4 separate regions of the Homo sapiens genome follow, and all the other regions are linked to region 1. The links come from fine-mapping of genetic effects on gene expression. A gene starts in region 1. Each other region holds a variant in brackets. All regions are shown on one strand. Distances are from middle to middle. Region 1 holds the start of BAMBI (BMP and activin membrane bound inhibitor). Region 2 holds the start of LINC01517 (long intergenic non-protein coding RNA 1517). Region 3 has its middle 130 kb from the start of LYZL1. Region 4 has its middle 140 kb from the start of C10orf126.

What was found.
Region 2: its variant is fine-mapped to the expression of BAMBI in testis (GTEx, PIP above 0.99).
Region 3: its variant is fine-mapped to the expression of BAMBI in fibroblasts (GTEx, PIP above 0.99).
Region 4: its variant is fine-mapped to the expression of BAMBI in monocytes after Pam3CSK4 (Quach 2016, PIP 0.95). The same link has a PIP of 0.9 or more in monocytes, monocytes after LPS and monocytes after R848.

The regions. Positions count from the first base shown.
Region 1 is chr10:28,672,896-28,680,458 of GRCh38, forward strand. BAMBI (BMP and activin membrane bound inhibitor) reads left to right here and starts at 4,626. Exons shown (of 3, transcript NM_012342.3): 1 at 4,626-5,078. The coding sequence starts at 5,003. RefSeq lists silencers at 4,094-4,653, 5,379-5,523.
Region 2 is chr10:28,736,757-28,744,319 of GRCh38, forward strand. It overlaps LINC01517 (long intergenic non-protein coding RNA 1517), which reads left to right and starts at 6,894. Exons shown (of 4, transcript NR_120652.1): 1 at 6,894-7,005; 2 at 7,267-7,351. The variant G/A (reference allele first, on the strand shown) is at 4,051.
Region 3 is chr10:29,156,674-29,164,236 of GRCh38, forward strand. No RefSeq gene overlaps it. Among named protein-coding and RNA genes, the nearest start is that of LYZL1, 130 kb to the right of the region's middle. RefSeq lists an enhancer at 2,773-3,448. The variant A/C (reference allele first, on the strand shown) is at 3,527.
Region 4 is chr10:28,980,750-28,988,312 of GRCh38, forward strand. No RefSeq gene overlaps it. Among named protein-coding and RNA genes, the nearest start is that of C10orf126, 140 kb to the left of the region's middle. RefSeq lists an enhancer at 4,393-5,592. The variant G/A (reference allele first, on the strand shown) is at 3,897.

The DNA of each region.
Region 1 (7,563 bases):
CGGTGCTTGTCAATGACCAGTTAGTAGTAACCATACCATAAGCCTATTTTGTCCATACCACAAACCCCTCCTAAATTAATCTTTAGTGTGTCTCTCTTCCTTTTAATTAAGCAAGTTGACTAACGATGTACTATAAATGTTTTATTTTTATTTATTTATTTATTTATTTGCTATTATGTTCTGGCCACTGTCATTGTTTTTATTTCATAATAATTCCTGAGAAAATAACTAACTATATAGTATTTGTTTTATCATTTACAAAGTATCAAGACACACATTATATTTGATGTGTGAGTTCAAGCCATGAAATAAAATGCCAGCCAAACGTGCATATCTTCAAATATTTAATGCATTTTAACGAGATTTATGGACACAGGTTATGAAGAGAGTACACCCTAAGTGAGGTCATCAATGAACAGAATTCTTGTTCTTATCCTTGGTATTAAGGGAAGAACTTCTGATGCGCTTTTCTCAGATTGTATAATCTTCCTTTGTTCTATCTGGTCACCTAACAAATAAGCTCCTATTCTGCTATGAATCCCTTAAACACAAATAACTCTCTGATAAGATAGTCAAGCTCACACCTGTAATCCCAGCTACTTGGGAGGCTAAGGTGGGAGGGTCACTCGAGGCTAGAAGTTTGGGACCAGCCTGGGCAACATAAGGAGACTCTGTCTCAACAAAAAGTATAGAAATTAGCCCCATGCAGTGGGGAGCACCTTAGCTACTTGGGAGGCTGGGGCCAGTGGTTCGAGGCTACAGTGAGCTATGATTGCAGCGCTGTACTCCAGCCTGAGTAACAGAGGGAGGCCTTCGTCTCTAAAAAAGCAAAAAAAAGCAAGTAACTCTCTACTCTCCCATTCACAATTTAGTGCCATTTAGTTACATGTTTAGCCTATAATTTCAAAGACATCATTTAAAATCTTTAAAACATCTATACGGCCAGCATGGTGGCTCACACCTATAATCCCAGCACTTTTGGAGGCTCAGGCAGGAGGATTGCTTGAGCCCAGGAATTCTGAGACCAGCCTCAGTAACATAGGGAGACCACCATCTCTACAAAAAAATTAAAAAATTAGTCGGGCATGGTGGCTCGCGCCTATATATATACATATATATCTCCCATGGATAAATTATATCTTGAATGCTGTTTGAAGGTAATAAAAAACTATTCTACTGTTTAACGGTTTCAGTTAGGTCTAGAATCAGTTTTCTGTTCTTGGGTATAGAGAGCTTGTTCCTAGGTATTTTCGGAATCCCTTTGTAGATGTAAAAAGAATTTTGGTCGTTGATTTCATTTCTTGCTTTAAACTTCAAAAGGACAGTAGATTGTACTATTTTTTTTCCCTCTACTTATCAACCTACATGTAGGAAAGTAATAACTGAATTATGTGCAAAGCATAAGTAAAATTCTCTAGAGAAGCAATTTTCCTTAAGAATGTTAAATTGAATTAAAATTGTTGCCTATTCTCTCAACTATTGATATGGCCTTATGATTGACACATTATCCCTAAACTGATTTTGATATTCTACATTGATTCAAACACTCTGATTCATTTAGTTGAAAAGTCCATGTCTTCCCCAGAACCATTAGATAAAGTGCGGACTTGTTTCTCTTTAATTTCTGGTCATTTAGAAAGTTTGCCCATTAATAATAAAAACAAAATAGTTGAAATCATTGTCTAAAAAATGGATCCCAAGTTCTTATTCAGAATTGGACTTGGAACAAAAAAATATATACAACCTGGAGTGCTCAAAGTCAACATTAATTCAATAAAATACAAATATCTTAGTTTGGTTTCTTTGGGTTGCAAGGAAAAGAACCTTAAGTAAAAAGGGGACTTTATTAAGGTTACTGAATTAACCTAAGGACAAGAAGTGACGCTGAGTGCCTGGAAATCCATTTGGATTTATGTATTTGCCACTTTGCATATCTTCATTATTTTTCTTCCTCTGCAGACAGGTGGACTACAGCTGCCCCAAAGCAAAATTTTTATGTCTCCCGTGAAATGACCTCAAGGGACTGAGCAGCATGTCTGCTCAAAGACACAGAAGAGAGAATCTAACTGACCTAACCTGGGTCATGTGACTAGCTATGGCCAGAGATTAGGAGATCAGAGTCTCCTAATCAGGTTGCCAACGCCCACTCCGGGAAAAGGGACATTCTCTGACTTGGGCTGGGAGACACTCAGAAAGTGTCTACTAGAATGCAACTTTCACCAACACATTCCCCAGACCTCTTCCATTAAATATTTATCTGTATCAAAGGGAAGTATAGTTCATTTCTGATACGTCTCTGTTCACTTCTTCACATTTTATGCTGCAATCACAAAGACTTGCTTGTCATCCCAACTACCTGTTCGCTGCTTACCACTCCTACTCACCTACACAATCATATTTCATGCCTAAGTCCTGTGGTCCTCTGTGCTTGTAATGGTCTTCTTCCAATCCTTAATGTCATTGCTTCTAGACTTTACCGGCTCTCTTTACCTTCCTAGACTAGTTAACCTCTTTCTTTTAGGCATTGTAACATCATGCACATAAATCTCCATTATTGTCCAGCTCCATTGTTTTGAGATTTACTATCTAGTTTCTGACATCTTTATACCCCCAGACATTGCAAGCCTCGCCTACGGTGGGAGGCCAGGTTGAACTAACATACCCTGAAAGTTTCCTTTTAGCTAATAATTGACTCTAAAAGAGAGTGTAATCATTACATAAAAAGTATTGTCCTCTGGGCGCGGTGGCTCACGCCTGTAAATCCCAGCACTTTGGGAGGCCGAGGCGGGCGGATCACGAGGTCGGAAGTTCGAGAGCAGCCTGACCAACATGGCGAAACCTCGTCTCTATAAAAATACAGAAATTAGCCAGGCGTGGAGACAGGTGCCTGTAATCCCAGCTACTCAGGAGGCTGAGGCAGGAGAATGGCTTGAACCCGGGAGGCGGAAGGTTGCAGTGAGCCGAGATCGCGCCACTGTACTCCAGCCTGGGCGACAGTGCCAGACTCGTCTCAAAAAAAAAAAAAAAAAAAAAAAAAGTCTTGTCTGCATAAAACCCTTACAATTGTTAACTTGTCAAGGTTCTAGTAGCCAGGAAGTTCTAATCAAACTCGGCCCCAGGACTGCCTTGTCAGCACGCCCCTTGAGAAACTTTTCTGAGAAACCTGCTGTTTACCTGGTGCCCTAACCAGTTTAATTTTCTTTTAAAACTTCTACTGGATTTCTCCTTCTCTCCTTTTAGATGCAATTTTGATCTAGAGAAGTAATGGTCTGAGCATCAGTTTATGAAATTATTTTATTTTTCTGCACATAAACATTATTTTTCAAAGACAATTTCATTAACTACATCCTGCAGCTCTGCAGACTTTCAACAACTTTAAAAGGTTAGGCGTTTGAGATATGTTCGCCTTGACTTTCAGTCCTCAAGACATATGTACATTTTTCTTAGTCTCAAAGCTCATGTCTGCACTCTAGTCCTAAAGGATTTGTCTTTATAATTCTCACCTTAGCATGAAATGTGCTTCTCTTTCTTTCCTTCCCCACCCCCCACCCCCTTTTGACATATCCGGTAGGGAAGCTCTGGCAGATTCTCAAGAAGAATTTTGCAAATGGTCGACTTTTGTTCATCTCAGGTTTTGGAGGGAGAGGATAAAAGAACATTCCCTCAGATAATGAGTTTTAACCTTAATTCCTTCCAAAGCGGAGGGGGAAACAAAACTACAGCAAGACCACCTTGAGTACCTTGGGAAGGGCAGCCCCGCGATCCCTAATAAATGAATTAGCATCTCAAGGAGGAGATCACTGCGGGGCTGATATTGATCAGGGTCAGCCGGCGTGTTTGCCAGCCATTGTTTGGGGGGTGGTTAATTGAGTGTCAGTCTCGGCCAGTGTCGTCTCGTTGGCGCCGGGTGCTTTTGGATTTGCTAATTTTCGTTAAGTGTCTCTAGCCCGCTACTCGTCCCGCGTACCCGGGAGAACCTAGCGGCTCCTAACGGATCAACAGTCAGTCTGTCTGGGCTTTATTGATCCCATGGCGGGCAGCTCGAGGCGGACACGCTGAGGGGGTGGGGGGCGAAGGCTGAATGCAGACCCCAGCGCTGGGCCGCCTCCCCCGGGCTCCCACCCGAACCCTCCTCCGCCACCTGCACAGGCCGGGGCATTGTCACTCGCCCCTGGGGGTTCCAGAAAACGCAGTGCGGCCGGGGAGGACGACCACACGGACCCCCTGCGTGTTTCGGGGGGCACCCAAAAGAAGCCCCGCGCTGGGGAACGCTGACCACCCGAGGCTGAGCCGTCAGGGTCTCGGAGGCGGGTTCCCGAGCCGGTCCCGGGGCTGGGCTCCCCCGGCGCCTCGCGAAGGTCACTGACGCGCAGGCCTCCGCAAGGGGGAGCGCGGGAGACGGCAGCGCACCAGCCGGGCGCCCCAGCCGGGCGCCCCAGACGCCGGCGCCGCTCGGAGCCGCCGGGCAGGTCCCCCAGCGCTCGCGTCTGGGCCCGCCCCCCGCTGCGGGGCGGATTGACAGGAGCCCGGCGGCCAATCGGACGCCGTGGGGCGGGGCGAGGCGGGGCGGTGCAGGCCGGCTCCCGGCGCGGGGCGCTATTTACGGCGCGGAGCCGGAGAGACCTGGGCTGGCGCGGGCGGGAGCTGCGGCGGATACCCTTGCGTGCTGTGGAGACCCTACTCTCTTCGCTGAGAACGGCCGCTAGCGGGGACTGAAGGCCGGGAGCCCACTCCCGACCCGGGGCTAGCGTGCGTCCCTAGAGTCGAGCGGGGCAAGGGAGCCAGTGGCCGCCGACGGGGGACCGGGAAACTTTTCTGGGCTCCTGGGCGCGCCCTGTAGCCGCGCTCCATGCTCCGGCAGCGGCCCGAAACCCAGCCCCGCCGCTGACGGCGCCCGCCGCTCCGGGCAGGGCCCATGCCCTGCGCGCTCCGGGGGTCGTAGGCTGCCGCCGAGCCGGGGCTCCGGAAGCCGGCGGGGGCGCCGCGGCCGTGCGGGGCGTCAATGGATCGCCACTCCAGCTACATCTTCATCTGGCTGCAGCTGGAGCTCTGCGCCATGGCCGTGCTGCTCACCAAAGGTGGGTGCCGGGGGCGCACGGGGCCCGGGGTCCCGTCCTCGCCGCGGGGCTTTGGAGCCGGCTGCAGAGGCTTTGTTAGCGGCAGGCGAGGCTCCCTCCTGCGCCGGAGCCGCAGGTCGCGACAAGTTGCTGTGTTCTTAGAAGTCGCGGCGGTGGCCTGGCGCGTGGATGCGGACTCCGATCTAAGGGCAGGCGCTGATCAGAGGGTCCTCCTGGCTCTGCCTGCGGGGAGCGGCGCGTTTGCAGCCCAGCGGGGAGCGGGGCCGGAGTCTCGGCCTCGACGCCGCCGCTTCCGCACCCTGGGGGCTCGGGCGGCCGGGAGGAATCGCAGATCCTGGCCTGTAGCTGCCGCGTGCCCTCAGCGTGTCTGTGTGAGTGCCTCAGGGTGTATTTCTGTGAGTGTGTCTCTGAGTCTCAGTATCCCTAAATGCATTTTTGTGTCTCTGAGTGTCGTTGTGTTTCTGAAAGTGTGTCTGAACCTCTGTATCACTCAGCGTATCTCTGTGTCTCTTTGAATGTATCTCTGAATGCATTTCTGTGTCTCTTTCTGAGTCTTTGTGTCTCTGAATGTGTGAGTCTCTGTATCTCTGATCTTGAGTGTGTCTTTCTGAATGCATTTCTGTGTCTGTCTCTAAGTGTCTTTGTATCTCTGAATGTGCATCTGAGTCTCTGTGTGAGTGTGTCTCTGCGTACATCTCTCTGTGTGCGAGCGAGTGTGTGGGTCTCCCTGAGAGTTTAGGTGTCCGAGGTGTGCAGAAGTGTGTGTTGTGTTGCTTTTCAGCAGCCGGGAGGAGTAGGCTCTGTCAGCGTCTCACTGCCACTCACCTCATATTTTACAAACAGGACCAAAAAAAAAAAAAAGGCAGCGGGTCAGTTTCTTCTTTCCTCTGCAGGCTTTCACCTTTTAGAAAGAAATAACCCGAACTGTCTCCGAATTTCAAGGTTCTCCTCACCTCCCTGCTGTGAAATCTACCTACTGTTCTGTGAACAGATAATTTTTTTAAGTAGGAAGCAGTTTAGTCTTTGCAGCCCCCTACTTCTCTTTAATTGCTATGTAGCAGGCATGAGGTTAAAGCATAAGCTAGCCCAGCGAGGATGATGTGCTACAGTATTTATTTATTTTGGAAGGAAGGGTGTAATTAACCCTAAATAACAGCCCTTGTGGCTTGCAGAGGGGAGCCTCCTGGCCCTATCAAAGGCGGGCAGAACAGGGAGGGACTGAGGCTGACATGAAGTCACAGATACCGAAACTATGTGCCTGATAATGATATAATTAGGGGATCAGAGATTTCTGACGGCTGCGGACTTCAAAAGCTTTAAAAGAAGCCAGCAGTCTCTCCTGTAGCCATCTTGACTAAAGCAGACATTTTTGTTTAATCACTACATACAGTAACGAGAAGGGGACAGAAACAGAAGGGCATTGTTCCACAGTTTCAAAATACCAGTCCCCTTTCTGGCCTTTTGCATGCCACAGGAAGAAACTTTATGAACGACAGAAATATAGTTTTAATACAGTGGTACAAAAGTCCATTCTCCTTGCTTAAAATGTGGCTCCAATTAAAAAAAAAAGGTAGTTAGAACTTTCCCAGTTACCTGTCAAAATTTTATTAGGCTGTTTTTAGGTCATTGAAAATAGGCTCTCATAAACATTTAAGCAGCATTTTACTTGTATTCAGTCTTCCTTTTCTGTACAAGGTCTGAAGCTAATAGGGTCAAAATGGGCTTTTAATCTGTTTTATTTATACTTTAAATCTATATATGGAATTTGTCAAACTAGGGATATGTAGTCATCACCCCAGAAGACTGGTGAGCTTTATGTGGAAAATAAAGTGAGCTTGGAGGGAGGAGGAGAAAGAGCAGAGAAGTGGTTCTGCAAAGCAAGGTTCTTACTTGAAGCAGAGAAGGAACTTGGGCCCAACCAGTGCAGATTTAGGAGCAAGACCCCTAGCTTTGGACTGTTAAGGGTTGCCAAAGATCTGTGTTTAGCGGGCTGGTTTTCCTTAGAACCGAAGCATTAGCAGCGTCCGGTGAAAACTGAGCATACAATACCGTGGTCTGGAATTTGGACAGATAATTAAATGAGACACCTTACTGGGGCGTTCAGAGAGAGGGGGAAGAATAAAGGTAAGGGTGGGAAGAGGTTTGTAAAACAGCAGATCCCGGTGTTTAATTTCAGAGTGGAGGTTTCGGATCTTCAGACGGGAAACTGGAAGAGGCGTGTGCATTAGTTTAGTTTACTCGCTGTGGCATGTGACAGCGACCAGGGTCCACTAGGTGGATATTGTATTAGTGAGAACTTGAAGACCCAGATTATTTCAACGAGAAACTGATATTAAAGCCTCCAATCTTGCCCTGCGACAAAATGTGAACGGAGCCATGCAACTCACAAAATAAGTTTTTATAAAGGAAACTTTTAATCACTTCCTGTAGAAAATTTGAGGTTTCCTTAAGGATTTTTCATTCAACCAGCAGAGGATTTTCAGTT
Region 2 (7,563 bases), 64 kb after region 1:
ATGCAAAAGGTCTGTATCTGGTGCTATGTGACTTTCAGTTACATGGAAGTGGGCAAAGTGCAGCCTGATGAATGCTTAATTGTAACCTTATTTCTGTCCAGAACCTGCCATGGAATTCTTGTTAACCCTGTGATGATGGTTTCATGCCCAGTATATTCTTCTCAGAAAAGTGTTTCTACCTCCTCTTAGACAGAGTGAATAAGAGACGGTGAGAGGCCAGATGTTATATTAATGTCTTGATGGTCATCCTTTTCATGGAGGAAGCACCAGAAGTTCCCCTTGTGGAGTTCTAATTAGAGAAAAGGAGTTGGGCTGGTGGGACCAAAGGAATGCAAAAAGAAGCAGATAAGCTACAAATCTGCCCTTCTTCATGATCCAAGACACATAACCCTCCTGCACAAGTAACTTACAATCTTCCTGCACTCAGCTATCACCAGACCCTCAGCTGATAGAAAAATGCAAGTTAGCTCGCTGCAACCTTGGCAATATCAGTACTGCATAAAGCCCTCTTCAGCACAAGCACAAACACTATTGTTTAAAATCCCCAGCAAGCCTTTGTCTCCTGACAGTCAGCTCCTTTTTGCTGGCCTGCCTGTTGCTCCCCTGCAACGTATTTTTCTACTTCCTCTAATAAATCTGCCTTTCTTTACCTACAACTGTCTTGGTAAATGCTTTCATCACTGGCACCACTGGTCTAGATAGTCACCACTCATCCATGACACCCCTTACCTTATAGTGAATAGATTTTAGCTGTGTATCCTGTAACTTTTCAACCATACCATGGTTCGCTAGAATTGATAACACTTTTCAACCCTATCCCGATAGTAGTTGTCAGGAAATGCTAGTGAAAGAGTTTGGAATTAAACTAGCATTCTAGCCGAGCATGGTGGCTCACATCTGTAGTCCCAGCTAATAGGAAGGCTGAGGCAGGAGGATCAATTAAATCCAGGAATTCAAGGATGCAGTGAGCTATGATTGTGCCACTGAACTCCAGCATGGGTGACAGAGCAAGATGCCATCCCTAACAAAAAACAAAAGCAAAAGAAAAAACTGAGAGTCCAAAGATGTGTTTGATTTAAATAAGTAGAAAGAGCAAGATCATTATTCTAGACAGAAGGAAACAATTTGAGCCAAGAAATATTCATTCTGTATTTAGGGGACAAATACATGAGCTGACTAATTTGAAGAGTTTCTAAAAAGCTAAGTTTGAGCAAGCCATGCCTGGCGAAGAAGTTGAAGGTTTCCAGCGATCACATGTGGAATCAGATGGTCTGACTACTGAGCTTTCTATCTTTGAAAAAACCCTGTGGATGTATAAATGTTCTACAATTTTATGCCAGTCATTTGCCTGTTTGCTATCAGATTCATTCTCTACCCTTCCCTTGCTCTGGTCTGTATTGTAGGAAAATCATTTTCCAGAATTTCCATAATTGCCTTCTGGCTGGGTTTGGCCAATGGGAGGCACTGGCATGAGATTGGAGGGTAAGTGGTAGGAAGAGATCAAGGCACATTTTGTCCTCTCTTTCTGGCATCTCCAATAGTAATCATGTCTCTTCTAGGTTCCTGATCCCAGAAGATGTCCCTGCGGTGGTTCCACCTTCCACCAGCTTCTGCCAGATCCTGGACTCCAGGAACACTGCCCCCTTCAGGCCAACTTTTTGGACTTCCTCACTGTCTTCTGAGCCCCCAGGTCTTCCAACACTTTTGCAGCCACTTCCCTGTATTAAATGCCCTCTGTTTGAAATATCTAGAATAATTTTCATTTTCATGGTTGGACTGATTCACCACTTTCCCTCCCACTCAAATTCAGTAAGATCTACTATCTTATGACAGATATCTACCCACTCATTGCTTCCCGATGCAGACATAAACTTGGATCCCAGGCCGTGGAAGAGCAGGTCAAGGTTTGCTCCTTAGAATTGTTGCTTTGGTGACATGTGGAGAAGGATGGTGGTTGCTGAGACTAGAGGAGACTTGTTGAGAGACAATTGCAATGATTCAAGAGGGAGAGGACAAAGGTGTAAAGTCAGACTGTTTCACTGCAGAGGTAGAGTGGGGAAAGGGACACGAGAGATGCAGAAGAGGCAGAATCAGGTCCCTGATTGGATGGGGCATTTTGGGAAGATGAAGGAGGCTGGAATGATTCCCAGGTTCCTCCAGAGTGAATGGATGGCACTTGTGTTCTTGACTGAGCTTGAGGACACAAGAAGAGGGGCAGCAGATCTAGATGGCTAGGAAGATCATGAGTTTGTGGCACGTTGAGTTTGGGGGGCATGTTGTACTCAGGAAAGGGCAGGAGAGAGATGGTTTAATGTCACAGCATAGGTGATAAGAGATCTATGGATATATAGGTGAAATCCCCGGGAGATGTGGATAGAAAAGAGTTAAAGGCAGAACATGGAAGAGCCTCAACATGGACAGAGAAGGCAGAGGACTGAGTTGGAACAGCCCGAGAGCTCAGAGGAGAGCCAGGGAAGAGCAACATCATGGAGGCCAAGGGAGAGCATGGTTCAAAAAGGGAATGGTCACTGTGTCAAAGCCTGCTTTTAAAGCAAACTAAATATGGCCTGAGAAGGACTCCATACTTCTATATTTGAGTCCTTGTGGATGAACTGTAACCTAGCTTAATAGGCAGACAAAATTGAAACCCTAACTTCACAGTATGCACCTGTAACAATAGCTAAGTCTTGGCCAATCCCAGCGGCCATACTTCAACCATTCATACACTGCTGAGTGTTCAAACTGTGTTCAAATAAGTCAAATGCCAGCCTGTAACCAATCCAACCACTCTGTACCTCACTTCCAATTTCTGTACGTCATTTCTCTCTTTTTTGTCTATAAATCTTCTTTCACCACGTGGCTGTGCTTGAGTCTCTGTGAATCTGCTGTGATTCTGGGGGCTGCCTGATTCACATATCATTCATTGCTCAATTAAACTGCTTTAAATTTAATTCGACTGCAGTTTTTCTTTTATCACTGCACAATGGCCAAGAAGGATCAGTCACAGGAATTGACTGCTAGGAGGATATGTACAGATGTGGGTAAGTGACAGATGTAGATACTCAAGCTTGAATAAGTTTATGCCTGATGGCTACACACACACACACTCTCTCTCTCTCTCTGTGTCTCACACAAACACACACACACAGACACCTGTTTAGAGTTATATTTTAGGCAAGAAAGATGGTATCTATTATACATCATCTGGTTGCTCTAGTCTAGAGGAAAAGAGTGAGCAGATTTTGGTTGGCTTTTTCATTTTCTTCTCTACACACATGTAACGCAGGGGTCTCATCAAGAGATCAGGAAAATCTCAAGGGGTCAGACCTGTGGCCCCAATCTGCAGAGAAAATGAGGAGCTGTTGGTTAAAGTCCCAGTTGATGGGGCCAGAGCTGTTGGGCTGCAAAACCAACCTTCCTTCCTTTCTTCCTTCCTTCCTTCCTTCCTTCCTTCCTTCCTTCCTTCCTTCCTTCCTTCCTTCCTCTCTCTCTTTCTTCTTTCTTTCTTTTTTCTTTCTTTCTTTCTTTTTCTTCCTTTCTCTCTTCTTTCTTTCTTTTCTTTCTTTCTTCTTTCTTTTTCCTTTTTTTTTTTTTTGACAGAGTCTCGCTCTGTCGTCCAGGCTGGAGTGCAGTGGCATGAGTTCGGCTCACTGCAAGCTCCACCTCCCAGGTTCACGCCATTCTCCTGCCTCAGCCTCCTGAGTAGCTGGGACTACAGGCGCCTGCCACCACGCCTGGCTAATTTTTGTATTTTTAGTAGAGATGAGGTTTCACCATGTTGGACAGGCTGGTCTCGAATTCCTGACCTCAGGTGACCCTCCCACCTTGGCCTCCCAAAGTGCTGGGATTACAGGTGTGAGCCACTGCTCTGGGTGCCACTTTCTCCTGTAAGGTGCTTTGAATAATTTGGTGTCTCTAAGAGTTCTGAGAGTTGTCTGGGCTTTCATTTTTGGTTCACCGAAGCAGGACTGATGAACACAGGGCCATTCAGGTGATGGGCATTTCCTGGTGTCACATGGGAAGATGCTGCTGATACCCAAGCAGACACAC[G/A]GAGCGGTTGATTAGTGTCACCACTCAGATGGTTTTCAACATCATTTTACCACCAAGACTGCAGGCCCAGATTCTCCTAAGCCAAGAGAGGTGAGGTGTAGGGTGGTGGGTATGGAGGAGTTTGTGGGTGGCTAGTAAAGGACAAACAACAAGTAACATCTTCTGGCTTAGAGTCCTCTCAAATTATCTGAAATGATATTGCTTGGAGCCTCCTTACCCTTATATTGCCCCTTAGTCCACTGGGCAGAGCAGAGGTGCCAAGATGTAGAGTGGAGGAGAGTTTGGGGGCGCAAGGGGTTTATGGAGTCATTAACAAGAGCGTTGATCCTTCATAGGTGGAGGTGGCTGTATCCCCAGGAATCCCAGAGAGCCTGTCATAGATGCTTCTTTGTGGCAGTGGTCAGGGTTCTCACCTGGGCTGTAAATTGGACTCCTCTGGGGAGCTTAGACAACACCAGGCCTGACCCCCATACCCGCCCCATCCTCCTCTCTGCCCCTGATTTGTGCTTCTGTTGGTCTGGAACAGGCCTAAGCATCAGAGTTTTTAAAAAGCTGCCCAAGTGTGGCCAGGGTGAAGAATTTTTGAGTTCTAGGTTATTCTTTTGGGCTTTTAAAGGGTATGAAGCTTCCTACACAACAAAGGAAATAATCATTGACGTGAAAAGGCAACGTATGGAATGGGAGAAAATATTTGCAAATTATCCATTTGATAGGAGGTGAATAGCCACAATATATAAGGAACTCATATAATTCAGAAGCCAAAAAACAAATAACCCCGTTAAAAAATGATAAAAACATTTCTCCAAAGAATTCATACAAATGGCCAACGAGCACATGAAATGTACTTAATTAATATCACTAACCATCAGGAAAATGCAAATCAAAACCAGAGTGAGCTATCACCTCACACATGTTAGGGTGACTATCATCAAAAAGACAAAAGATCAGCATTGGCAAGAATGTGTGGAAAAGGGAAACGTGCACAGTCTTGATGGGAATGTCAATTAGTACAGGGAGGTTCCTCAACACACTCAAAATAGAACTCCCATATGATCCAGCAATCTCAAATCTCAGTATATATCCAAAAGAAAGAAAATTACTATCTCAAAGAGATATTTGCACTTCCAAGTTCATTGCAGCATTATTCACAATAGCCATGATAAAAACAACCTACGTGTCCATCAGTGGATGAGTGGATAAAGAAAATGTCATAAACACACACACATTATGAAGTATTACTTAATTAATTATTATTATTACTATTATTATTTTTTGAGACAGAGTCTTACTCTGTCACCCAAGCTGGAGTCAGTGGCATGATCTCAGCTCACCGCAACCTCTGCCTCCCGGCTTCAAGTGATTCTCCTGCCTCCGCCTCCCAAGTAGCTGAGACTACAGGCGCACAACACCACGCCTGGCTAATTTTTGTAATTTTAGTAGAGACAGGGTTTCACCATGTTGGCCAGGCTGGCCTCGAACTCCTGACTTCAAATGATCTGCTGGCTTTGGCCTCCCAAAGTGCTGGAATTACAGGCGTGAACCACCATGCCTGGCCTATTATTTAATCTTTAAAAGAAAGAAATTTTGTCATTTGTGACAACATTGAACCTGGAGGACATTTTGTGAAGTAAAATAAGACAGGCACAGAGAGACAAATGCTGATGTCACTTATATGTGGAATCTAAAAAAGTCAAACTCGTAGAAACAGAAAGTAGGGGGTTGTTACCAGAGGTTGGACCAACGGGAGGGGAGAGGAAATGAGGAGCTATTGGTTAAGGGGTACAAACTTTCTGTTATAAGATGAATAAGTTCTGGAGATCTAAGGTACAGCATGGTGACTATAGGATTAATAATAATGTATTCTAGGTTTGAAATTTGCTAAGAGGTTAGATCTTAAGTTGTCTCACCACACACACACACACACACACACACACACACACACACACACACCCCCCACACTACACAAAGGTAACTGTGAAGCGACGGATATGCTAATTAGCTTAATTGTGATAATCATTTCACAATGCATACATATATCAAAACATTATGTTGTGTATCTTAAGTATATACTTTTTTTGTTGTTTTTTTGGAGACATGGATCCCATTCTGTTGCCCAGGCTGAAGTGCAGTGGTGCCATCATAGCTTACTGCAGCCTTGAGTCCCTGGGCTCAAGTGATCCTTCTCCCCAGGCTCCTAAATGGCTAAGGTGTGCATTGCCAGAGCCAGCTAATTTTTGTATTTTATGTAGAGATGAGGTCTCACTATATTCCTCAGGCTGGTCTCAAACTCTTGACCTCCAGTGATCCTCCCACCTTGGTTCCCCGAAATATTGGGATTACAGATGTGAGCCACTGCATGCGTGCTTATTTGTTAATTATACCTCAAATAACCTGTGGAGGGTAAGAGCATAAGCCTTCTGGGGAGGTTTGGCACTTGGCTGTGATGCAGGCCTTCTGACTTTTTTTTTTCTTTTTAAAATAATTAAAATAGAGATGGGGGTCTCACAAGTCCAGGCTGGTCTCAAACTCCTGGTCTCAAGTGATCCTACCACCTCAGCCTCCCAAAGTGCTGGGATTACAGGTGTGAGCCATGGTGCCCAGCCATGACTTTGTTGCTCAGCTCATCTTTGCCTCACACTGGCTGATGTCAGCTGCTGCGATAGGTGAGGTTTTAAGGGGGGTGGAGAGGGATTGGCAGGGGGCAGTTTTGCCATCAGAGTGGAGGTGAGGGGTCTGTTGTGGTGGCAGTCAGCAGCTGCCTGAGGATCTGGGAGAGACCTAGCAGGCAGTGAGGACAGTGGATGGCAAGGGGCCTCAGAGCTCTGTGACCTCATAATTTTCCTGTGGGACCACAAAGGTGGCTTCCACAGTGCATAGTGGTTATCAGCTGTGCCTCCCTCTTAGAGGTCCTCGGAGTCCAGAGTCCTCGAAGGGAAATCTGACACAAAGAAGCAGGTGTGAGACCGGCCCCTTTCTCCCATGCCTTAGACAGGGCTCCAGGGACTGCTTCAGGGGAGATGTCAGAGGGCAGCAGGGACCGGGAAGGGAGGAAGAAAGCAGAGTGACAGTGAGAGGTGGGAAAACTACAAGAGGAATTGTTTGTACGCTTGGATCTGGACTTTTAGAACTGGTCAGGACCTGACAGATCCTCCAGCCCAGTTCTCCCGGCTCTCAAACACTGGCATCATTTATAATTCCCTGGAAAATCACCAGCAGGTAAATGAAGGAGAAAAGAAAAGAACAAAATCCACCGGGAACCAGAGACTTCCAGGCTCCAAAGACAGGCAATCTCCACCAGGAAGTAAGTATAAAATCAACTTACAGTACTTCTTTCTTTAGCACTTAAAATGGATTTTATCTCATTAATGTCCAACAGAGACAAGGGCAACTCCTGGAGGAGCTGTTTCCTCACCCCATACGGCAGCTAGTTCCTCATTTGTCCTTCAGAGGCATGTAGAATCGTTCATTCACTGAATATTTATTGAGCATGTACTCTGCGCTGAGCACTGTTCT
Region 3 (7,563 bases), 480 kb after region 1:
TTAAGCAGTAAAATCCTTTATTTAAAATAAATCCCACTCAGCCACAATCTATAAGAGAGTTCAGGTTGGAGATGGCCTGGTTGAAATTAGGGGGTAGCTGGGTCAAGTCTCACTGGTCCTCTGTCTTGATTCCCACATCCTTGAAATTCTTTCAAAAATCCAACAAATCACCAGAAAACTGTTTGCAAATTTAGAGTTGGAAACCTCAACTTCAAGATCAGAGAGTGCCTTAAAAGATCTGGGAGTGCATTTGTGTCAGAGGCTGAATAGGGCCTGTCTTGGCTTCATCCAGTCCAGAATGTGTAGCTATTGAACTTCCAGCTCTCCTAAAGAAACTCCTCACTTCTTCCCGAAGTCAGACTGCCCATGTTAGCTACTTAGCAACTCTCACTCAGTACAGCACCCAGGAATGTATGGAAGTCTCCTGTCAGGAGCAGAGGCCTTCCCCTTACCATGCAATTTACCTAAAGAGCCTACTTTGGTTCTTCATGCCAAGACTATTGGGCTGAGAACTAGCTGTTACACTCTGGCACCCAAGTGTAATTACTGTATTCACTTGGATGATGAAACAGAAACAAAGACAAGAATCTGCCAGATCCACAGTGTGATAGATTAATTTGAACTCTATCAGCATGTATGGAGATTCAGGGACTTCATTGTTTAGCTACAGAGCTCTTTGCAGAGCTTGCATCTGTTGGTCATCTGTGCTGCTGTTTGCAGCCATAAGCTAGGCATCTAGGCAGATGTTGGACAATGCCGGCCTATGTAGCCTGGCCTTCATTAGTGCCATGAGGAGGAAATGCATTGCACTAATGTTCATAGCAGTGGCTGAAACCCCACAACAACACCCTGGATGCTGCCTGGGAGTGGCCCAGGCAATGGTGGAAGAACAGGACATACCAGGGCCCTGGGACACAGGAAGCCATTGTGCCTTAAGCCCCAGAGCTCTCTTCCAAAAGGGCCCCACACAGAAGGCATTGTTTCAATGCCCTGAACACGTCTACAGCCCATTCCAGCTCATGATAATAAGCTAATTAAAACTTTAAAGCTTAGCAAAAAAATGCTTCACAGTCTCTATGTCTCAATAAAAGACCAGGCTACAGGGCTCTGAGTGTGAACACATGCACCGTCTACTCAAAGCTGCTCCTACTCAGAGCCTGCATGTCCTTCCTTCCTGGTGAGCAAAAGGCATCCCAGCTGCCTGCTTTAATGCACAGATCCATCCCTACCATATCTAAGACAGCTGATGTCCTCAATCAAATGTGACAACTGAGGATATAGCCAAAAGAACGCATTGAGTCAGGTGACCCCCCTGGGCAGTGTGGACCCCATCATAGAGAGCTAAATGGGCTTTATGCGCTGGGCTCAACAGGACTTGTAGGAGCTTGTTTAAGATTCCCAGGAAGGAGACTGAAGCCTTGCAAATGGAAAATGGGATGGAGAAACAGGAGCCACATAGACATCGGTGTACAGTTCTTAAGTCTGCAATAAATAATAACCGCTCTATCTACACTGCCAGGCCCCAGAAGGTTCCAAGTCTCCTGAATGTCCCAGGGGCCTCTCCTTCCAACCTTCAGGAAGCTTTTACACCAAGATGATTCAGTTCTCCCTTTATGAAGGCAGCACAAACTCAGCTTCTTCTTAGAAGAGGCAGGAAATTGGGGATTCTCTAAGGGCACTTTTAGAAAATTGAACATAGAACCTTTTATTAGCGAATGCATAGTCGGCTTTAGCTCTCACATTCATCAGAAGCACTTCAGGGAGAGAAAATTAATGATAATCCTAAGTACATAATGACTTGCTGGAGACCAGAAGCCTCCACTCTGATGGGTCTGACTGGAGCTTTGCCCCCACAGTAATGAAAGATGCCGCCTGTGAGCTTGACCTTGGCTTGGTTCATGCTTCAGAGTAAAGCGCTGCAAAGTTGGTAGGGACTGCTTAATCTCTTTCCTGGTGACTGAAAGCAACTTAGATTGGGACCATTGGGAATAGTGCTGTACTTGGTTATTTTAAAAAAGACAGAAAGAAACTCTTTGCTTTCAATATTTCTTTCCAGTGTAAACATAAAAGCTCACAGAGCCCCTAGGAGAGTAGTACACAGGGCACAGAAAAGCAAGTTATTGTGCAAAAAAAAAAAAAAAAAAAAAAAGAAAAAAAAGAAAAGGGTGCAGCCTTCCTATTAAAAGCACATTGGTTCAGTAGTACAGCTAAAGACAGAAATCAACCATACCCAGCCTAGTGTGTCAGTGAAATTGATGCTTTCTATTTTTCAGAACATGAATTGTGCAGCTATTACCCAGCAAGACACTTAGAAGTGGCTTTGCAATGTCATGCCTTTCTCCTCGATGCTGACATGGGGAGTGATTGCTTTAATTCACTCCTGGGTACCTAGAACTTGGTTGGGTGGCTATTGTTCCCAGTAGAAGGTGTCCAGGTTCTTGGCATCTTAAACAAAGAATTGATTTGGACAAAACGCACAAACAAAGCAAGGAAAGCAAGAGTAGGGATTTATTGAGAAGGAAAGTACACTCCACAGTGTGTGGGAGCGGGCCCAAGCGTAGGGGCTCAAGAGCCCAGTTACAGAATTTTCTGAGTTTCAATACTCTAGAGGTTTCTGTTTAGTTACTTGGTGAATTTCTTTTTTTTTTTTTGAGACAGAGTCTCGTTCTGCCTCCCTGGCTGGAGTGCAGTGGCGCGATCTCAGCTCACTGCAACCTCTACGTCCCACGTTCAAGCGATTCTTGTGTCTCAGCCTCCAGAGTAGCTGGGACTACAAGCAGGTGCCACCATGCCTGGCTAATTTTTGTATTTTTAGTAGAGATGGGGTTTCACCAGTTTGGCCAGGCTGGTCTTGAACTCCTGACCTCAGGTGATCTGCCTGCCTCGGCCTCCCAAAGTGCTGGGATTACTGGTGTAATCACCAACCTGGCTGCTTGGTGAATATTCTATGTAAATGAAAAGAAAGAAGTGAAGTCACAGAGTCATTTACTCAGAATCTGCCCTATTGTAAATGGAGAGGCTGTTACTTGGAGTGTGTGGTCTATGTAAATGGAGAGGATGAATGTGAAGTTACAAAGTGTAAATGGCGGGACTGGAGAGGAGGAAATGAAGTTACAAAGCCATTCACATTCCTGTCATTGCTGAAGTGCTTTCATTTGATTTAGTTCTAGGAACTAAAGGTGTGGATGGGCCTTATGTTCCCTGCCTCCGGGCCCTATTCTCCTGCCTCAGTTATCACACATTAGACTTAGTTGTTATTTTTCTTTTTTCGATTCTCACTAAGGTGTAAATGTCTGATATCAGAGTTTGTTTTCGAAATTGGAGAGGAAAAGGGGGAAGACGCCTGTGTCTCACCCAGGCCCCTGAAATAGGAGCAAGAGCTTGGTGGAGTCCTTGGAAATTGTTTAAAGGGGAAACTGGAGGCAGGTAGAAGGCTTCACAGTTCTGTTAAAGTGGCCCTCACTGAGGTGTTGTGCTAGGAAGAAAAGACCTTGGGCATAACAAAGCCACATCCCAGACAGCCTGC[A/C]GCACACTCCTGTTGCCAGAGCTGGTGACTCACTATGACTATCCTTGTGGTTTCTGCTGGGCAGCTGGGCTGGGCCATTTAATGTTCATCATTAATTACTGTTGTCTCGATTCTTGTCATTAGAGTATCAACAGGTTTAAAATGAGCCTGAGTTTTTTATGTTGAGATCAAAGGCAAACCAGTTGGGAGATGGTGGGCAGAGGGGTAGGAGAGAGGAGGGCCGAGTAAAGGGTGTTTCTGGGATTTCCACTGCTCCGGGGTAGGGTTGACCCCACCGTGGTACAGAGACACCGATGGGTTGTTCAGCAACTGAAGCACCAGCTTCCTCAGAGTCACTCTTGCCAAGAGTCAGGCGATGGCTTTATCTGGAGCCTCACAATACTGGTCACTTACTCCTTCCAAAGGCGTGAGGCCTCTGAGGTTAGAGAACCAGCATTTCACAGAAGGGAAGGAGAGGGGAATGATGGAGACTTCACCTCCTCAGGGCAGAGTCCAGTGGCCAGATGAGTGGGAAGTCCTCTGATCCACAGCCCTTGCCCTCACTTCTTCTGGTTTCTGGAAGAGCACAAGTAGAGCTGGCCTGTCCCTCTTGAGTCATAACAGGGACCAGAGAACCTTTTGCTAAGGTTGTCCACTGTAGGTGCCCCATTCATGCCTCTGTACAGTGCCCACTTCTCCTTTCAGGAACTTGGGTGCTCTTGGACATGGCTCTTTCTTGGCCTGGTGTCCTTGAATCCCGCTCCCCCAAAAGCTTGTAAAGCTCTTTTGATGAGAATCAGGGGTCACCAAACTGGCTCAAGAGTATAACTGGAGTGAGGGGGCTGTGTGAGGATGGGAGCAGGCTGTCAAAGGCAAAAGCCATGCCATTTGAAAGGTAGCCATCTGGGTGCCATAGCACCTGCATTCTTTTAAAATATATATTTTAGGCCTGGTGCAGTGGCTCATGCCTGTAATCCCAGCACTTTGGGAGGGCAAGGAGGGTGGGTCATGAGGTCAAGAGATCAAGACCTTCCTGGCCAACAAGGTGAAACCCCGTCTCTACTAAAAGTACAAAAATTAGCTGGGCTTGGTGGTGCATGCCTGTAGTCCCAGCTACTCAAGAGGCTGAGGCAAGAGAATTGCTTGAACCTGGGAGGCAGAGGTTGCAGTGAGCCAAGATCATGCCACTGCACTCCAGCCTGGTGACAGAGCGAGACTCCATCTCAAAAAAATATATATATGTGTGTGTGTGTGTGTGTGTGTGTGTGTGTGTATAATATTTTGGGCTGTAATCAGTGGCTCATGCCTCTAATCTCAATGCTTTGGAGGCTAAAGTGGGAGAATCACTTGAGGCCAGGAGTTCAAGACCAGCCTGGGCAACATAGCCAGACCCACATTTCTAAAATAATTTTTTAAAAAATTAGCTGGATGTAGTGGCATATGCCTGTCATTCTAGATATTTGGGAGGCTGAGGCAAGGGGACCTCTTGAGCCCAGGAGTTTGAGGCCACAGTGACCTAGGATCACAACACTGCACTTCAGCCTGGGCAACAGAGCAAGACCTCATCTCTAAAAATATATAAATAAATACACAAATAAATAAATAAATATTTTATTGATATATAGTTTTATGCATAAAATAGATAGATTTTAAGTGTAGAGTTCTATAGTTTTGACAAATGTATCCAAATTACCAATACTCCAAAGAAGATCTAGGACATTTCCACCCCAAGAGTTTCCACCTGTCCTTCCCAGCTCCCCCATCCCATCCCAGAGACATCATTGTTCTGATTTCTGTTCTCCACAGCCTTTGTCTACCCAGGTAGACACTAGTGGTGGAACGCTTGCATCCCATACCCTCACATCATGGAACTAGCCCTCCACCCTCCCCCTTCTCTGCCAGGCGCATGTTGATACAGCTCTGAAGAGTGGAGGAACACCAGGTTCTTCGTCTGGAGTCAAATTAGATAAAACGACGCGGACACACTGGAGTGGTTTTAAGAAGCGGAGAGTTTAATTGGCAAGAAAGAAGGGGAAAGAAAGAAAGAAGAGGTCCCCTGTACAGAGACAGAGGGAGGAGGTTTCCAAAGCTGAGAGAGGGAATCCCAAGTGTGGTGGATACCAGCCAGGTATATGCAGAGGCTGGAGGAGGCAGTGTCTGATTTGCATAGGGCTTAGGGGATTGGTTTGATCAGGCATGACATTCACATAGCCCTTGAAAAAGCTGGCCCTCCCACCCTAGCCATTTAGTACGCAAATGCAGGCGCCATGATGTTCTACACACGTGGGGATATGTGGGGGCGGCCATGTTGCCAGGAACATGTGGATCAAAGTCAAGAAGGCCGGGAATCGCCATGTTTGGATGGACCCAGTTTCTAATGGCTGGCATTTGAATAGCAAAGGTTGCTGACCTGGCTTTAAGAGCTGCTTTAAGAATGAAAACTTCCCAAGGACCCCTTTTTCCTGTCTATCTGCCTAAAATAATTTCTTAATAACTCCTACAACAGCATTTACTTGAATACACCTGTTGTGGGGGCAGAGTGTATAGCAGAGGTGATAAAAGAGGAGGAGAAGAAGCTCAGAGATGAGGATGGTAGCTAAAGTGCCATTGATCTGCCTTGGGCAGGTATTAAGCTGGATTCCGAGTAACCAGGATGGGAGAGGAATCTTGCTGGATTAAGGAGTGTTTTGTGTAGAGGAGGAGAGAAGAAGGAGGATAAAAATTTGTCCCTAAGACAGGAGGCAGCCTGGCCTCAGAGAAAGGCTCTGGGGTTGACAGCCCTGGCATTGCAGACACACTCACTAGCTCTGTCATCTTGGGATGCTTCCAGCTTTTGTGTTGGTGAATTGAGGTAATCATTTGGACTGTTAGTTAGGGGTGTTATGAAGTTTAAATGGGATAATGCAAATAAAACACCTATTGTAGGGCCTGACACATAATAGGTATTTCATATGTGATAGTAGCTGTATTACTGCTGCCAGGTAATCCCAGTTCTTAGTAAATGCTTTTCTTTTCTTTCTTTTTTTTTTTTTTTTTTTTAATTGAGACAGAGTCTCACTCTATTGCCCCGGCTGGAGTGCAGTGGCAAGATCTTGGCTCACTGCAATCTCTGCCTCCTGGGTTCAAGTGATTCTCCTGCATTAACCATAGTACAGTTCCATTTGGCCAATAAAATGACGAATTATTCAGAAATTTACAGGTCCTGTTTTTAATTATGCAAAAAGTCATTATTAAAGAGTGTTTTGCTATAACTAGGAGCTGAGCTTCCTTTAAACTTTTATTGCCGCAGTAGGCTACCAAGTGAAAAACAAAAGAAAACCAAAATAAATGGACATAGTTCAAATCACAGCAACAACAACAAAAAACAATAAATAAAACTCCAAACCCAAGTTAAGCACTTAGTCACTTCATCATCAAATAAGACCAGGGATACTGAATTCAGATGAATAGAACCGCTTTGGATAAAAAGATGGCACTGACCAAGTCCCAGCCCAAAGTGTGGGCCAAACCAGACACAGCTGCTTGGGCACATAGAAAGTTTTCTAGATGTTGTTTTGATTTTATGTTCAAAATTCAGAGGGAGAAAAAAAAGTTGAGCCCACTGTAGGGTGGGAATCACCAGGTTACCTGCAGCCAGACACGGTGAAGATGATACATGGACACTAAAACACACAGACAGAAGAGTAGCTGGGTGTGAGAAAGCCCAAGGAAGAAGTTCCCAAGTAAGAAACATCCTGGACAGGATGACCTCAGAGTTTCCTTCCAAATCTGGAAATCCCCAGTTCTCTGTCCAGCCCTCCCAGCCCTCAGGGGAGCCAGGCAAACACAGTGAGAGATGGAATGTCATCTATGACAGGAACATCTGTAAGAAAGAGGCACTTTTCATTTTCGATGAGGCAGAGGGTTACAAGGAAGGGTTAGGGGACCTTAGTTTCTGGTTATGATGTAGAAAGTCAAAAGAAGCTGTCTGCCACTCTTGCCCTAAAAACCAAATCAAGAAGAATCAGTGGGACAGGAGAAATCTACTTTAGATGGTAGGGAGAAACCCTTCAAACTTG
Region 4 (7,563 bases), 310 kb after region 1:
TATTCTAGAGACAAATAGATTCCGCTGATATTGACAATTGCCTAAATCATTAGTCACTGTGAAATCTTCAAGATTTTGCAGCTTTTTTGATATTGACTTGATACTGCCTGTTTTTATCTGGACCTCTCCAGATCGCCTGAGTTTCGACTGTGAAGATCTACTCATATACTGCTTTTCTTCTAGATTCTTGTCTGGGAATATTTAGGATCAACATCCAGGAATTCAGCATTTCCTATGGGATGTTGATATTTTCCTTTTTTCATCTTAATTGTAGACGAAAGTTGGTAAAATGAAAACCAGCTTCACATTTATGAACCTTGAGTGAAAAAGGAAAAATGCCTTGAGATGTACTTAATCTTTTGAGACGATTTAGGTGTTTTCTGTATATAACTCTAGATATCTGTGCAATTTCTTTGACCAGGGGAGCAAGAAGTTTCAGTTCCTTTAAACTCATATAAGAAAGTAGAAGTACTCCGAAAAGAAATGACTTCTAAGAGGGATACCAGAAGTCAGAGAAAGGGCTAGACATTGAAATCTGGTTTCAAATACTCTACAAGCAGAGGAAAAGTCAGGAGAGCAGCTCCTATGCACAAAGATGACAATGACAATGCTATTTGTAGTATCTGAAAATGGACTAAATTGAAAGGTGCTTAACATGAAAAGTAGACACACACAAAGTTAATATTTCTTGTAGGCAAGAGGGTTACAAAAGAACACTGGTGTCGTCTCCTGCTGCCTTGATAACATAGTGCACATCAGAAGCTCCTGCAATGAATTTTAGGGTAACTTTCATCTGAATGGAATCGCTCTCCACTTTACTATAACACCAGATTTGAACATTCTAAGTGTGCATTTTTAATATTTTCAAAAACATTGGGTTGGTGCAAACTGATGGTGGCTTTATGCTGCCATGCCATCGAATAACTAAGGATACCACATCTAGTTCCCCTTGGCTAACTCATTGCCTAGGACAGCGATAAGGAACCAAGCATGGAAGCTTTAGAGTTTTACCCCACACCTCCCATTCCAGTTGCTCTATCCACCCCTCACCCCCGCAACAGCATAATACTGCATTTATTAAATATGTGCCTGGGAAGTTTCCCCTAGAGCCACATGCACTTCTGTCCATATTTTACAGTGGTAGGTGGTAGACCTGGAGAGAGAATGTGCAAGTTACCCACCTTTATGAGGCTGTTGAAAATCACTCCCAGAATTACATCTCATTTCTAAATGTATACTTTGGGAATAAGGGCAAAGAATTAGGAAATCAATGGGATTAACTAAATTCACTGCCCTCTTATTTCTTATTTTTATAACACTTAAGGGTTTTTTTGTCTCATTAAGATCTTGGCAGAGCACTCCATTACAGAGTTCCCATGCTCCCGATAGGAGGAATATATTCTATTGCATTTTTTGGCTCATATGTTTTAAGTGTTTCTTCAACAACACGAGAGTGAGCATCAGATCACCTCTGGCTAAGGAATGAAGGAACCCACTTCAGGAGAAATTGCACTAAGACTACCTTTGTTTTAAGGGTGTAAAAATCCTTAAATCCTACTTGCACAGAATTGCGTAGACCCTGCTGAATTTTCATCAATATTGTCTTCTTTCCAACTCCTTCTACTGCATTAGCCTATAGCAACTGGACCGTACACAAATAAGTCTTAGCACTAAACTGTAGAGCTCCTTCTCAGACAACATCCATGACAGGAGAAAGGGGCATGAAGAGATGAAGCACAAAGTATACATTGAAAAAGTTGTGGGTCATGTTTTTCAACACATTTTCTTGCTTGGTTCCATTCAGTGAGCTTTGATTTCCTTTAGTTCTGGGTAGAGGATTTACGCTTATTTTTTTCTGACTAGGTGAACTATCTTTAAATACAGTGAAAAAATTCAGAAACTCTGTTATATCAAAGACTTCTGGAAATATGGGGAAGAAGGTAAGGAAGAAATTGGGCATGGTAGTGCACACCTGTAGTCCCACCTACTTGGAAGGCTGAGATGAGAGGATCATGGGAACCCAGGAGTTCAAGACCAGGCTGGGCAACTTAACAAGACCCCATTTCACAAAGAAGAAGAAGAAGGAGGAGGAGGAGGAAAGAAAAGAGTGACCCACAACCCAAAGCCTTGCCATTTCCCATAAAAAAAGCCACAATCTGTCCCTTGGAGCACATGAAGGGCAAATCTCCAGTCTAAGAAGAGGCTCCCTTCTTCCCCGAGTGCAGGAGGGGAAGCCACCTGGGATCTTCCAGCATGAGCTCATGTACCTGCTGCTGTCTTTCACGACACTTGAAAGCAATTGCATTGTTTTCTACGACCGCTGTAACACACCACCACACACCTGGTGGCTTAGAACAACCCAAGTTTATTCTCTTGTAGCTTAGGAGGTCAGAAGTCCAAAATCTGTCCTTGTTGGCCAAAATCAAAGTTGGCAAGGCTGCTGGAATTCCTTGGCATGTGAACGCATTACTCCAATCTCTGTCTCCATGGTCGCACCTCCTTGTCCTCTTCTGTCGGAAATCTCCCTCTGCCTCCTTCTTAGAACACTTTTTTTTTGGGGGGGGGGGGAGGAGTTTTGCTCTTGTTGCCCATGCTGGAGTGCAATGATGGGATCCTGGCTCACTGCAACCTCTGCCTCCCGGGTTCAAGCGATTCTCCTGATTCAGCCTCTGAAGTAGCTGGGACTATAGGCATGCACTACCAAGCCTGGCTAATTTTGTATTTTTAGTAGAGATGGGGTTTCCCCATGTTGGTCAGGCTGGTCTCGAACTCCTGACCTCAGGTGATCTGCCTGCCTCGGCCTTCCAAAGTGCTGGGATTACAGGCGTGAGCCACTGCACCCAGCCCTTAGAACACTTTTTATTGCATGTAGGGCCCACCCAGATAATCTGGAATAATCTCTCCGTTTTATGATGTCGACTTTATCACATCTACAGACTTTGCCTTTTAAGATGCATTCACAGATTCCAGGGATTAGCACGTGGCCCTCTTGGGAAGCCAGGATTTGGCCTCCGTAACACCTGTTGTTTCTCTGGTACTCAGATTCCAGGGAAGTGGATGTGTTCATGGTTTCTCTGCAGAGGAGCTCATTCCAAAGAATGATGGACACAGGTTAGTAGTTGTCCAGGCCAGAATGGAGGGATTACAGTATGTGATGATCTGTACTGGGATTTCCGAGACTAAGATTTGGTCTGGAGAGGGTGTGTTAATTATACTTAAAGTCTTCTTTCAGTCTCCTGCATATGAAGCAATACTCTGTGTACTTGGAAGGATTTAGAATTATGAAATGTTTCTTTTGTCTGGAACTAGTCTGCCTGTGATGCTAAGTAAGACAGATGGATGCGAAAGGAGATGCAACATAGCATGGGGAAGGCCAGGAGAGGTGAACGAGAAGTGAAGAAAAACAGATGATAACAGCAAGAGATGGGATTTGGGCTGGGCTCAGAAGGATGGGTGTCTTTTAGGAAACCATCCATGCCCATCTCTCCCATATTATTTAGTATCTACCTTTGCTTATGTCGTCATAAGGCTTCTCTCGTTGTTTCTAGTAGTCTGTTTACCTGGCTAGGGTGAGGACAATGGCTTATCATGTTTTAGTCCGAGATTCCCAGCATGTAGCATGGCGCCTGGCATGCAGTAGAAGCTCAATAAATATGGGCTGAGTTGAATGAATTAGTGGAGAGGAGAGAGAAGGAAATTTTGGGCAGAGAGCTAGCTCAAGAAAATGCTTGGAGGCAGGGCAATTTTTCTCATGTCAGTATAGTATGAGTCACCATGAGGAAAGTGGGGCAGTGAACCGGACTGGGCTCGGGGGATGGGTGAGCAGAGAGGAAGTGAGGAAATGGCTGCTCTGTTCTCACCACTGCTGGCCATGTTCCCGTGGCTGTTCTTGGCAG[G/A]TGTGAGGAGGTGGCGGGCCGTGCCTGGCAGAACACACCCATTGATGCAGGAGGTGGTACAGAAGAGGGGATAAGAGCAAGAGCCTTGCAGCTTGAGTCCTAGCGCTGCCACCTGTGTGAGCTTGGGCAGACTGCTCACACCCTCTAAGTCATGGTTTTCTTTTCTTTTCTTTTTTTTCTTTTCTTTTCTTTGAGATGGAGTTTCTCTCTTGCCACCCAGGCTGGAGTGCAATGGCGCCATCTCGGCTCACCGCAACCTCTGCCTCCCGGGTTCAAGCAATTCTCCTGCCTCAGCCTTCTGAGTAGCTGGGATTACAGGCATGCGCCACCACGCCCTGCTAATTTTGTATTTTTAGTAGAGACAGAGTTTCACCGTGTTGGTCAGGCTGGTCTGAAACTCTCAACCTCAGGTGATCCACCTGCCTTGGCCTCCTAAAGTGCTGGGATTACAGGCGTGAGCCACTGCGCCCGGCCTAAGTCATAGTTTTCTTATTTGCAAAATGAAGATCCATCTCACAGTTCTGAACTACGGATAAAGAAGACAAACTGTGCAAAGAGTTTTGTGCAGTGCCTGGGATGTAGGTAACACTAATATTATTGTGACTATAGATCACATCCATTAGGCTCCTCACTGGAGGGAATCCTGGCTACGCTGTGTGACTGGATGTGCCTTGGTCAGCAGTATTGACTGGTGCTGACATCTGAGCCTCTTCTTCCTTGCACAGTGAGCAACTAGCCAGCTTGTGTGACTCCATTAGGTCCCAGAGCAACTTTGAAGAGAAACCTGGTGATTCTGGAGGACAACGCCCATGTTTCTCAGGCACTCTCTGCAAATGTGAGCACCGATAGGGCCTTTACTAAGGATGAAGTTGTGGCTCTGGATCTGTAGTCTACCTCCAGCTTGCAAAGCTCTTGCCTTGCAGCCTTGAAAAACCAAGCGAAAGTGCATGGAGAGCTTTGAGGCATCCTAGCTCTGCAGGAAAACAGGGGTCAGATGAGGCAAGCTGTGTGGTGCTAGATCTGATTGTAGAGCCAGGCTGTGTCACTGGACCTACTTCTCAAAGAGATTAGACAGGATCAGAGCCAATGGGACCTTTTCCAGTGTTAATTGGACTTAGTTATAAATAACACGGAAGCCTCTTGTCATTGCTCCTCTGGGTGTCTGGCTTACATGCCAAAACACAGAACTTGAATAAAAATGTTCGAGACATGCTAGCAGGTTTCAAGGTCTTCACCCTCGTGACAGGGGTTGCGTAGCAGGTTTCCTTCTCATCAAGAGGCTTAAAAGTGAGAAGGAGCAGTGCATTTCAAGTTATTTGATAAATTGAGTAAAACCCATTTGCCAGTTGGAATTTTTTTTTAATAGAGGAGGTCCTCACTACAGTTCTAATTAAAAATCAATGTGATATATAATTAAATTCTAGTGATCATATATGCACCAGCCCGTCTCTTTAGCTTTTAGCTGAAGGCAGGGGAGGCATGCTGTTATTGATCAGTGCAGGAGCCCTTTGAGGTTGTCAATAGATGTCTCGTCTGAGAGCCACGTGGCTGCTCAAAACCCACAGCAGCGCTCAGAGCTGAAGGACACTCGACTGACTCCAGCAAAGGGGGCTGATGCTCCCTGACCATTTAAGTGCTCTGCCAGGTAGGCCAGGACCCCGTTCACCATCTCCACCTGCCATCCAGTCCTCCAAGAAGTGAGCTCTGGGGAGGAGGCTTTGGAAAGGGAGAGGAAGCCAATCAATGTTTTCCAGCTTCAAATTATCATTTTAGCTTCCTTTTCCCCATTAGACCATGGGTAAGTCCCCTCTAATTATTTTCCATCATGTGTGTCAAGTACCAAGTCAAGTCCGCTGAGTCAGAATGACTAAAGATCACATTGATTCAAGACTTATCCGAAGGCCACTGACGTGTCTAGGTGGTTCCATCCAGTCTGAGGAACAGTCCTACCCCTATTACATGAAGAACTATCATTGGGATTTTCCAGTTTCTTAGAAAGATGTTCATGTTTCTTTGTATGAATTCTTGGCAACCTCCCGAGCAATTTATCATAAAAGCTCATGTGCGTAAAGTGCAAAATCCTTCTCAAAAGACTTCCACAATTTTTATTTTTGTCCTCTCGTGTGATCCTCATCACAATACAATGATCTGAGGCATGAAAGTGGTTTTTTTTTTTTTTTTTTTTAAGACATGGTCTTGCTCTGTTGCCCAGGCTGGTTTCAAACTCCTGAGCTCAAGTGATCCTCCCGCATCAGCCTCCCAAAGTGCTGGGACTATAGGTACACAACACCATGCCCTGCTGGAAGTGGCATTTTTATTCCCACTTTACGTAGGAGCATTTCCTCACCCAAAGCAGAGACTGTTAAAGGGTTGATCCAGGTTTCTCCGGCCTGGGAGACTTTTGGAGTAGAACTTGGGTCTTCCAACTTCCTGTCCCATGCCTGACACCTGACACCATGCTGCCTGCTCAGGGACCATTGCTGACCCATCTTTCACTGCCAGGCCCTCCTCCTCCTCAGAAGACTTTATCTCTCCCTCCTTTAAAGCTGAATTTAGTGACAATATATTTTATTTTTGACTCCCACTGTTTCTTTAGTTTTTTGGTTTTTGTTTTTTAAATTTCAGACAGAGTCTTGCTCTGTCGCTCAGACTGGAGTGCAGTGGCATGATCTCGGCTCACCACAACCTCCGCCTCCCGGGTTCAAGCAATTCTCATGCCTCAGTCTCCCAAGTAGCTGGGACTACAGGCACCTGCCCCCACACCTGGCTAATTTTTTATATTTTTAGTAAGAGATGGGGTTTCCCCATGTTGCCCAGGCTGGTCTCAAACTCCTGATCTCAGGTGATCTGCCTGCCTCGGCCTCCCAAAGTGCTGGGATTACAGGCGTGAGCCACCATGCCCGGCCATAGATTTTTATTATTCAAATACCAATACGTCGTTGTTGTAACGGATTTAAATTATGTATGAGAATATAGAGCCCAGTGTGAAAGGGCCCATTCCTGGCTTGGAGCTTATACATCCTGGCTGCTGTCCTGGGCCACCAGGGAATGTCTGCTTTCCCTCCCTTCCAGTATGTCTTTCCTCCTCCTCTTCCTTTTTTCCTCGTCATCCTCTTCCCTTTCCTCCTTCTCCTCCTTTCTCCTTCCTTCTCCTCTTCCCCTTCTTCTTCCTACTTCTCCTTTTCCCCTTCACTTTCTTTCCCCTCACATCTCTCTTTCTTCTCCCATATGTATTTAAATAAAATAAGGATGTTGTTTTACACAAATAAAAAAATAGTTTTAGAAACATGCCTTGGTGGAAAGCAAGAATTTTTTCAAAACCTTTCTTATATAAAGGAAAACGACACAAAGCCTCCTGTAGTGTAGAGCTGGAGCTAATTTTAGGAAGAAGGAGGATTTGACACACATGAAGGAAAAGAGAAGCTCGTTCGCCACGAGACGTGGGGAGCCAAGACAGGGAGTGAGACAAAATAAAACCCCGTGAGTCACCTTTGAGCTCTCTCCTCCTCCCCATCCCAAATGCAGGCTACCAGCAAATCCTCCCTGCTCTATCTTCATAACATATCCAAAATCTGGCCGGGCACGGTGGCTCATGCCTGTAATCCCAGTGATTTGGGAGGCCGAGGTGGGCGGATCACTTGAGGTCAGGAGTTTGAGACCAGCCTGG